Linked DNA regions of Homo sapiens. The protein of the gene in region 3 interacts with the protein of the main gene of each other region in a pairwise test. Each region holds a gene or a part of one and is shown on either strand. Other genes may lie near its edges.

The links.
Region 1: the proteins of ITSN2 (region 3) and CPSF6 interact in a two-hybrid assay, tested with the Homo sapiens proteins (one large-scale study listed by BioGRID).
Region 2: the proteins of ITSN2 (region 3) and PTN interact in a two-hybrid assay, tested with the Homo sapiens proteins (one large-scale study listed by BioGRID and IntAct).

The regions. Positions count from the first base shown.
Region 1 is NC_000012.12:69,256,553-69,260,209, forward strand, and holds part of CPSF6 (cleavage and polyadenylation specificity factor subunit 6), read left to right. Parts: intron 1-144; coding exon 145-290; intron 291-1,179; coding exon 1,180-1,353; intron 1,354-1,482; coding exon of another isoform or gene 1,483-1,593; intron 1,594-2,037; coding exon 2,038-2,542; intron 2,543-2,875; coding exon 2,876-2,991; intron 2,992-3,491; coding exon 3,492-3,645; intron 3,646-3,657. UniProt on the Homo sapiens protein: Component of the cleavage factor Im (CFIm) complex that functions as an activator of the pre-mRNA 3'-end cleavage and polyadenylation processing required for the maturation of pre-mRNA into functional mRNAs.
Region 2 is NC_000007.14:137,253,124-137,256,780, forward strand, and holds part of PTN (pleiotrophin isoform 1 precursor), read right to left. Parts: intron 1,852-3,657; 5' UTR 1,851-1,851; coding exon 1,736-1,850; intron 515-1,735; coding exon 341-514; intron 1-340.
Region 3 is NC_000002.12:24,294,435-24,298,091, reverse strand, and holds part of ITSN2 (intersectin-2), read left to right. Parts: intron 1-2,287; coding exon 2,288-2,428; intron 2,429-3,657.

The DNA.
Region 1 (3,657 bases), on a different chromosome or scaffold from region 3:
TAAGCAGCTGGGATTACAGGCATGAGCCACTGTGCCCAGCTGTTGTTTTAGATAAAAGCAGATTAAGACCTTTTTACAGAAGAATAACAGTAATAATATTGATCTCTTTTTACTTTGTATCCTCACCCCTTAAACACTTTTTAGGTTTGCCCTTGTTGGTGTTGGATCTGAAGCATCTTCAAAAAAGTTAATGGATCTGTTACCTAAAAGAGAACTTCATGGTCAGAATCCTGTTGTAACTCCATGCAATAAACAGTTCCTGAGTCAATTTGAAATGCAGTCCAGGAAAAGTAAGCAGTCCTCAGAGGCTTTTATTAAAATATGTACATTTTAACCAGTGCATTTGTTAGGTGTTATACTAGAGAAGTCATCTTAATACTAGCTCACTAGGAACTCCATTTCACAAAGTCCATGCTTTGAATTAGATTTAATCACTGGTTATGACTGTGGGCCTGTGTACGAGAAACCTACTCCTGTTCCATTTTTCTCCAGATGTAACAGACCCAATACTATACAACAATGTGCAAGTTCTATAGCCCTGCCATTCTTGTCCTATTATTTCCATCTTAGATACAGAAAGAAACTACATTCTAATTCTTAGATTAAAGGAGAGCTATGTGGATGTGTATTATGGTGGGGGAGAGATCACTGATAACCAGAAAATGTTCATTGATTTTTCTGCTTGGCAACAAGACCTTTCACCACTTGGTAAACTGAATATAGAAAAGATTTGTCATTATACATTTAAGTACATTATCTTTAAAGAGATGAGATGGATGATTATGTAATTAACAGAAATTCAAGTGGTTCCTTTTCTTTTAATGTTTTAGCACTTAAGACTTAACTGAAGAAGTGTGTTACAAAATTTAAATGATGTAATACTGAAATTAAGATATCTGTTGAAGAATTTCGGTCTTGGCTGCTGCAGAGTGCTGGTATTTTGAAAGTAACTCACGATTACCTATGGAAAATATATTTAAACCTGGATATTTTGAGTCTTTAAAAGTACCCAAATAGATGTGAATGTTTTCCTAAACCATACTTTCTTATGTAGTTTGCATAGGCACAAGGCATTTGCAAGTTAATATATTAGAAATAGAGTTGTTTTTAATAATAGTGGTTACATTTCAGAAAACTATTTTTAATAAGTGCTATTTATGAGTATTTGGATATTTGCAGCTACACAATCAGGACAAATGTCTGGGGAAGGTAAAGCTGGTCCTCCAGGAGGCAGTTCCCGTGCAGCATTTCCACAAGGTGGTAGAGGACGGGGCCGTTTTCCAGGGGCTGTTCCTGGTGGGGACAGATTTCCTGGGCCAGCAGGACCAGGAGGGCCACCCCCACCTTTTCCAGGTAAAACTTTTCTTAAATTACCATGGATAAAACATGTCTACCTAATACCTCTTTTCCTTTTCTCTCTTTTTCAAGTAATGCATTATTAATGTGACTTACTCTCCTTGTTATGCTATTTTTGGAATCCAGGAAATTTGATCAAGCATCTTGTTAAAGGAACTCGGCCTTTGTTCCTGGAAACTAGGATTCCATGGCATATGGGGCACAGCATAGAGGAAATACCCATTTTTGGCCTAAAAGGTCTTTATTTTTCTCCAAACTTGCTTGACTTATATATAGAATATTTACATCCGTCTTACTTTCTTACCTCTTAAAAAAATCCTTTCAAGATCATTTTTCCTTGTTTCACTTTCTAGCTTGGCATCAGAGTAGAATATAAGGTGGGTGATTTCACTGTAAGAAGTGTGTGTACACGGAAAGATGGAAAATATCTCTAGGCATTGTAATATTTTTTTATTAAAGTTTTCGTTTCAATAATTTTTCTTAAGCATAAATTGAGCTAGTTAAATTTGTAAGGATATACTTCATTGTAGTTGGTAGTGTAACATTTACCATACGGGTTTAATTTAAAGACAAAGACTTGGTGTATGCTCTATGCGTTTAAAGTATAATCTTGGCATATAAAAGTTAAAATATCTTATTAGTGAAGTGTTTTTTTTTCTCTCTTTCTCCTTTGTTTTTTAGCTGGACAGACTCCACCACGTCCACCCTTAGGTCCTCCAGGCCCACCTGGTCCACCAGGTCCTCCACCTCCTGGTCAGGTTCTGCCTCCTCCTCTAGCTGGGCCTCCTAATCGAGGAGATCGCCCTCCACCACCAGTTCTTTTTCCTGGACAACCTTTTGGGCAGCCTCCATTGGGTCCACTTCCTCCTGGCCCTCCACCTCCAGTTCCAGGCTACGGCCCCCCTCCTGGCCCACCACCTCCACAACAGGGACCACCTCCACCTCCAGGCCCCTTTCCACCTCGTCCACCCGGTCCACTTGGGCCACCCCTTACACTAGCTCCTCCTCCGCATCTTCCTGGACCACCTCCAGGTGCCCCACCGCCAGCTCCGCATGTGAACCCAGCTTTCTTTCCTCCACCAACTAACAGTGGCATGCCTACATCAGATAGCCGAGGTCCACCACCAACAGATCCATATGGGCGACCTCCACCATATGATAGGGGTGACTATGGCCCCCCTGGAAGGTAAGTTAGTGTGTATCTGTGAAAGTACTTGATGATAAAAGATAGGAACAATGACTGTAAATATTAGATTGTAGGTATATAAATATGTTATTTCTGCCTTCCAAGAAGATGAGGTGTTTAAGCTGCTACCCTGTTTTAGCTGAAAGATACTGGTATAGGAGAATTTTTAGATTTGTTCTCTTTGTTGGAAAAGTAGCATGCTTCAATATGGAAAAGTAACTACTATCTCTAAAGCACATGTCAGAAGCAGCTAGTATGAATTGCTATACACTGTTGTGACTAACTGAGGAAATCTGTTGAGTATGAGTTAAGGTTTATGTTTTTGTTTTACAGGGAAATGGATACTGCAAGAACGCCATTGAGTGAAGCTGAATTTGAAGAAATCATGAATAGAAATAGGGCAATCTCAAGCAGTGCTATTTCGAGAGCTGTGTCTGATGCCAGTGCTGGTTTGTGTATTTCTTGTATTAATATTTCTTATTTATGTTATTAGGAATGACCTAAAAATGTAAGTACAATCTAGAAGATAGGTCATTTACATGTAGTAGTTCTTTTTATATTCCCAAATCATTACCTACGATTTATTTAAAAAGCATTGAAAAAAGTTGTGTGTCACAGTGTAGTGGGGAAAATCCAAATTTTAAGTTATTTGGTATAGATTTAAGTCTTACCCTTGACATTTAATGGTTCAGGGGCCTCATGACACCTTATTTATTCTTATATTTGCAAAATGATAATGTGCTTCACACACGTATAATAAGTTGAGTCAATATCATGAGCATGAAAGGCTTTTGCAAATGGTGAAACACTGAAAGAAGACATTGTCTTGCATAGTTATTTTATAGCACAGTACTTTTGTAAAATGCCTTATCACTCTTATCCCAAGTGGTTTGATGGTGTTTTGAAAACAAAATTTGTTTGACTTCAAACCCTTTCCTTTCCCTCACAGGTGATTATGGGAGTGCTATTGAGACACTGGTAACTGCAATTTCTTTAATTAAACAATCCAAAGTATCTGCTGATGATCGTTGCAAAGTTCTTATTAGTTCTTTGCAAGATTGCCTTCATGGAATTGAGTCCAAGTCTTATGGTTCTGGATCAAGGTAAAACTTTCC
Region 2 (3,657 bases), on a different chromosome or scaffold from region 3:
GAAAGGCAGTGGTTCCCAACCAGGGATGATTTTGACCAACAGGGTACATTTGGCCATAGATATTTGGAGACATTTTTAGTTTTCACATCTGGAGCGGGTGAGGAATGCTACCGGAAACTAGCGAGTAGAAGCCAGCGATGCTCCTAAATACCCTAAAATGCACAAGACAGCCTCCACAACAAATAATTGCCTGGCCTGAAATGGGACCAGTCTGGTCACTTTGTGTCTGGTAAGATAAAGTTATTTAAAATAAAAAGTACTTATCCTTAAAAAGACATTTGGTGGAAAAATTTGAGAATTATCTCAGAGTAGGAGATTAACTCAGTAGCATGAGGCTTACCGCCAAATTGCTTCTTCCAGTTGCAGGGGATCTTACATCTCTGGGTCTTCATGGTTTGCTTGCACTCAGCTCCAGTCCGAGTGCCCTCCCGTGTGCCCAGCCCACAGTCTCCACTGGTGGGCACACACACACTCCACTGCCATTCTCCACAGTCAGACTTCTTCACTTTTTTTTCTGAATGAAAGGAGGAAAACCTAATCAACATACAGAAAACTCCTTAACTTCCAGATATAACCAAGTTCATTCCTGAGCACCTTAATTGCAGGATCTGTGTTTTTTAATCTGTATCCTTATTGTCTAATGAATAGTAGAAACATGATGAATATTAACCAAATTATTGAACCAATGAATGATCAAGAGAAGAGAGAAAGAAAACTGAGAAAAGAGCTAAAACTAATATTAATTGAACTCCCTCTTACTATGTGCCAGAGACTGTGCTAAGTGATTTAGTGGCATCTCCTTTTAGAAGCAAACATTTCTATAAAAGAAGAGATGGTCAAAAATATAGTTCTCCTAAAAATGAAGAAAATATTCTATTAGAAATAACAGTTGTCAGCTGGGCAAAGTGGCTCATGCCTGTAATCCCAGCACTTTGGGAGGTCGAAGCAGGCAGATCACAAGGTCAAAAGATCGAGACCATCCTGGCTAACATGGTGAAACCCCAACTCTACTAAAAATACAAAAATTAGCTGGGCGTGGTGGTGCATGCCTGCAGCCCCAGCTACTCGGGAAGCTGAGGCAGGAGAATCACTTGAACCGGGAGACAGAGGATACAGTGAGTTGAGATCGCACCACTGCACTCCAACCTGGTGACAGAGCGAGACTCCAACTCAAAAAAAAAAAAAAAGAAATAACAGTTGTCAAATGAGCCATTTCAGTGTAAGTTGTTGTTCCTTTCTCTGCCTTGTAGAAGGAATGACATCATACAAATATGGTGCATCACAGATTTAAACAGACTGTCAGTTCCACAGCCTACTTATGACTTTGGGAGTGGCATAGAGAAGGTGCTTTATCTTCTCTGTGCTTGTTTCCTCCTCTGTAAATCTGAAATTAAGGAGAAAAACAAGTTGCAGTGCATTTTTTTTTTTTTGAGGTAGAGAGGTAAATAATAAAGCACCTGATTACCGGTCAATGTTCTATACATAGTAGCTGCTAATTTGATCATTATATTAATGATCATCATCGTCATGCAATCCAAGACTTACAATGGGAGAAAAATAAGACAGGATATTTCTTAGGTTCCTCTAAGTAATTATTTTTGAAAAGGGAAGATTGAAGGAATAGAGGAATAGGAAGGGAGAGAGGCAGAGTAGAAGAGAGGAAGGAAAAGCAGGTAATTAGACTAGATGGACATTAATCAATGAAGCATCTTGCCTTCAGAACCCTACTGCTTACCTGGTTTCTCTTTCTTCCCTGCTTCAGCAGTATCCACAGCTGCCAGTATGAAAATGAATGCCAAGAAGGCAGCTGCAAATTTTCGACGCTGCTGCTGGTACTGTTGAGCCTGCATTCTAGGAATAAACAGAGAAAGAGAAGAAGGTGGCATTAACCTAAGTCAGAAAGGAAGATTCATTGAACCCTTGATGAAAAGGCTCCACTTTCCATTTCTGGAATGTTAGATTTCAGGAAGATTCATATCAATTATCTTGGGTAGAATTTTATCTATTCTTACCAACAGCCATTGAAATAAGTGCTCTTCTGCAATCAATCACGTATTCACTGACAAAACGCAACAGTTCTTCACTTAAGACTTCACAACCATTTGCTAAGTATGACTCAGAAATTATGGAAGCAAAAGAACTTTGAAGGCATGCATTTGAACACAGTCCTACTGTCTTGCTGATAGCATCACTTGGTAATATCGACAACTACAGCCATCTTCAAAATTCCTGACAATATTAGAAACAACCACAGCAATGATACTGCTGTACACAAGACCAATTTGAGTAGACATGATGAATGAATTACCTATACAAGTATATGTTTACTGTTTCTATTTAGACGCATACACAACAACCAACATCTCTGATCTTTTTAAAATCATTGTCATAATCATCACTATCATCTTATTATTCCATTATTTATTGATCTAACAAAGAGTGAATCCCAGAAGTAGAGCTAGCACACCTGTGATACATATCAAACACAATGATAAATTCGCATGTGCTAAAAATCCTCTAATCTTAGGATATGGTGAAGTCTTTACACTCACTCATAATAGGAAATGCTCACATTTGATGTGAATCAAAAATCCCAAGATATCATTAGAAAGACTCTCCTAGAACTTGAAGCCACCTGTGACAGCCTAGTGTCAATATGGTCACTTGGCCAAAACACCCTTGAGAAAGTTTCAGTCCAAGCTCCAGGACGACCCACTTCCCAATGGCTACACCATATCATGGCTGCAGCAACTTGCCTGGCAGTTATTGAGCTCCATCTGCTGTGTTAGTGGTGTGTTATACTTCACATAAAAATGGTTGTAATGTCCTATGATCATAGGCTGATAATTTTTTTTCCAGAGGTAGTACTAGATTAGTTTAGGTGTTTCAACATTCTCTTTAGTGTGAACAATAAAACGTTTCATGTATATAAGGGGTTGAGATTATTCTTTTCTCTAATTTATTTTCCTCATTGAAAAATATCTGAGATGATATCCTTGCCCGTGAATTTTTCTCCTTTTCTGTGGCATTGTATATGCTGTCTCTTATTAGTGTTTTTTTAAATTTATTTATTTTTAATTTTACTTTAAGTTCCAAGATACATGTGCAGAATGTGCAGGTTTGTTACACAGGTATACATGTGCCATGATGGTTTGCTGCACTTATTGACTGGTCCTCTAAGTTCCCTCCCCTTACCCCACACCCCTCAACAGGTCCTGGTGTGTGATGTTCCCCTCCCTGTGTCCATGTCTTCTCAATGTTCAACTCCCAGTTATGAGTGAGAACATGCGGTGTTTGGTTTCCTGTTCCTGTGTTAGTTTGCTGTGGATGATGGCCTCCAGCTTCACTCATGTCCCTGCAAAGGACATGATCTCATTCCTTGTTATGGTTGCCTAGTATTCCATTGTATATATGTACCAAATTTTCTTTATCCAGTCTATCATTGATAAGCTTTTGGGTTGGTTCAATGGCTTTGCTATGTAATAGTGCTGCAATAAACCTATGTGTGCCTGTGTCTTTATATTAAAATAATTCATATTCCTTTGGGTATATACTCAGTAATGGGATGGCTGGATCAAATGGTATTTCTGGTTCTAGATCCTCAAGGAATCACCACACCGTTTTCCACAATGGTTGAACTAATTTCCAGAATTTACA
Region 3 (3,657 bases):
AATCACTTGAACCCAGGAGGTGGAGGTTGCAGTGAGCCAAGATCGCACCACTGCACTCCAGCCTAGGTAACAGAGTGAGACGCCATCTCAAAAAAAAAAAAAAGAAAAATGTAATTGTGTTTTAAAATCTCTCGTGAATTAGTTATGTCTTAATGTCATTAGTCACATTTTCATATAAACAGACTGTACAATATGGTTTACTGAGAAAAGGATAATGACTCAAAATGCTGAGAATTATGTTGTAGCATCAGTTCAGACACTGATGAACCATGTACTCCTGGGCAAGACATTTCCCTTCTCTGTGCCTCACTTTTCCCTTGTCTGAAATAAAGAGTTGTGTTAGTTGAGTGATTTTCAGTTTTCAGATTGGTCTCTGTAAGATGGTCTGAGGAGGACTAAGCAGAGGCAGGAGAGGGGAAGCTCGGGCAGCAGAACAGTGATTTTCTCTCCCTAATTCTTCCCACGCTTCACAACAGAGAAGCTTGACATTTATGTGCTTTATGTTTCTTGGGGTTTCACTCAAGATTTGCTTGGAAAAAAAAAGATTCTACTATTAAAAAGACAACTGATTTGAAACTGCTGACCTAAATGATCTCTTACAGTTCCAGTTCTGCAGGATTGTAGTTCTTAGCTAATACTGGCCACTAAGCAGTTTTTACCAATCAGATGTTAGAGGGTCAAGTTGTTAAAAGACTTTGTTTGAAATGTGTGGTGAGAAGGTATAAAAGATCTGGCACTATTCTGCCACAACCCTAGAATCCCATGAGCCTACCCTGATCATATAGTAGGGTTTTACAAAAATGCATACCTAGTCATGTAGTAGAGCCAGATTTAGATCTTGTGTGATCATAGTCTAACATTTTATTTGGTTGATGACTTGAATTACATTAAAAATTATTTTTTTAATCATCACAATATCTTTAGTCAGAAATATATTATTTTATTCCTTCAAATGGATAGACATACATACCACAAGTATTAATCATGCCAGAGTACTACAAAACAGTTGTAAAAAACTTTTAACTCTCTTGCACTATTTTTATATATATATATCATCTTGACTATATATAATGGGAAGAGACCTTAAGATTGATTGTTTTTCCCTCAAGAACTGGTGCAACACATGAAGCACAGTAACACAGGTGAATGTGCAGAGTCTGGAAAGGTCCAGAGCCTATACGTATCCCATGTTGAGGATAAGAATGTGAGCTCCAGCAGAGATACACATGTTCCTTTCAGTGTATGTATTTCAAATATGAAACAGTCTTCAGTAAAACTTTTCATCATCAGTAAGTTTTAACCCAGGATGTCATTTCCCCTCACTCCACTGTATTAGTTTGGTAGGGCTGCTGTAACAAAATACGATAGGCTAGGTGGCTTAAACAACAGAAATTAATTTTTTCACAGCTCCTAAGATCTAAGACCAAGGTTAGTTAGGCTTAGTTTCTTGTGAGGCCTCTTTTGGTGGCTTGCAGGTGGCCATCTTTCATTGTGTCCTTATATGGTGTTTTCTCTGAGTGTATTTTATCTCTGGTGCCTTTTGTGTTCAGATTTCCACCTCTAATAAGGACACCAGTTAGATTGGATTAGGGTCCACCTGTATGACTTTGTTTAACCTTAATCACCTCTTTAAAGGCCCTGTCTCCAAATATTGTCACATTCTGAGGTACTGGGGCTTGGGACTTTAACATATGAATTTTGGGGGACACAGTTCAGCCCATAACCCCCCATGTCACCCTTCTTCTTAGGTCCCATTGAGAATCTCTGCTATTTGTTTGATTTCTTCACAGAAGAAGAGGAAAAAAGGAGAAGAATATTAGTATAGAACAGAACTGTTGCCAAAACGTTCCTCCTGGGCACTGTTTTAATTAGAGGAAATTAGATGGCCATATTTAGGGTAGAAATAGAAGTTCAGAGAAGGTAATGCCGAGCATCACATGCAAACATTTATTCCTCTTCATCATTCTTTGAGAGTGTCTCTGATATTAATATTGTTAATTAATATTGTCTAATGCTGAATTCAGAAAAAAATTCAATGTGTTATGTTTCTGCTTTCCCATACTAACATATGGGCTCTTGCACTCTGAGAATGATGTGTTTCCCACTAATAACTCGAGTTAACAGACACAACTCTGAAACACATTCCACTTGGTTTTAGGCATTTGTTTCAGGATGAATATGAATGATAACTGAGATTTTAAAATTTAACTAAAAATATTATTCTCCTTGTAGAAACATTTTCTATTAGCATTTTATGTTACTATATATTTATATGATCTTCCTATAGAATGGCAAACATCAGCAGATCTCAGGCAGACTTCAGGATGTCCGACTCAAAAAGCAAACTCAAAAGACTGAGCTGGAAGTTCTGGATAAGCAGTGTGACTTGGAAATTATGGAAATCAAGCAACTTCAACAGGAACTTCAGGTAAGTCCTTCACTGCTAAATTGTTCTTAAACATGTACAATTAATAGTTCTTCTGGGCTGGGCACGGTGGCTCACGGCTGTAATGCTAGCACTTTGGGAGGCTGAGGCGGGTGGATCCCCTGAGGTCAGGAGTTCGAGACCAGCCCAGTCAGCAGGGCAAAACCCCGTCTCTACTAAAAATACAAAAAAATTAGCTGGGTATGGTGGCGCATGCCTGTAATCCCAGCAACTCGGGAGGCTGAGGCAGGAGAATCGCTTGATTCCGGGAGGCAGAGGTTGCAGTGAACCCAGATCGCACCACTGTACTCCAGCATGGATGATAGAGCGAGATTCCATCTCAAAACAAAACAAAACGAAACAGTTCTTCTAATAGAGTTTTGTTTTGGGGGTCAATAACCTTGAGTCTTTGATAGGCTTGTGATCTAAATACACGCAATCCTGTATACAATATCAGGAAGTCCATAGACCTACTAAAACTCTGCTAGACGTCTGGTTAAGTTTTGCTTAATATATATACGTAAGTGGACATTTATCACTTTGAGTTTTAACTCTTTAACAATGTTTATGCATTCTTAATTCATTACTTGCTATAACAAACGACCTTAGACTGGGTAATTTATAAACAACAGAAATTTATTACTCATAGTTCTAGAGACTGAGAAGTCCAAGATCAAGGTGTTAGCAGATTCAGTGTCCGATGAGGGCTTGCTGTCTCCTTTAAAACTAGTGCCTTCTTGCTGCGTCTTCACATGCAGAAAGGGTAAGGCAGTCCCTTCAACTTCCTTTATAAGGACAGTCATCTCATTCATGAGTGTGGAGCCTCCTAAAGCCCTACTTCTTAATAGTACTGCATTGGGAGTTAGGTTCCAACATATGAATGTTGGGGACATACCAACATTCAGACCATATCATACATTAAAATAAGGTTATTGCTACTAATTTTAGGAAATTTTGACTTAAAGTTATTCTTTTTAAAATTATGATGAGAACTTGAATATGTCCCTTGGGGTCCTGGTAATTCTCTTCCTTACTTGTGCAGTAGGGTCTGGTTCAATAATTACTATTTGCAGAATGGGGCTGTGGAAGCATTCTGCATCTCTAGAGTTCTCTTACCCAATTTCTCTTACTGCATGGACTGGCAATTAATCAGTCTTTTTGCTTTGTTACAGGAGAGATAAACAAAAGCCAAAAATATTTTCTGTCTGATTTAAACCTGCTTTCCTAGTTTT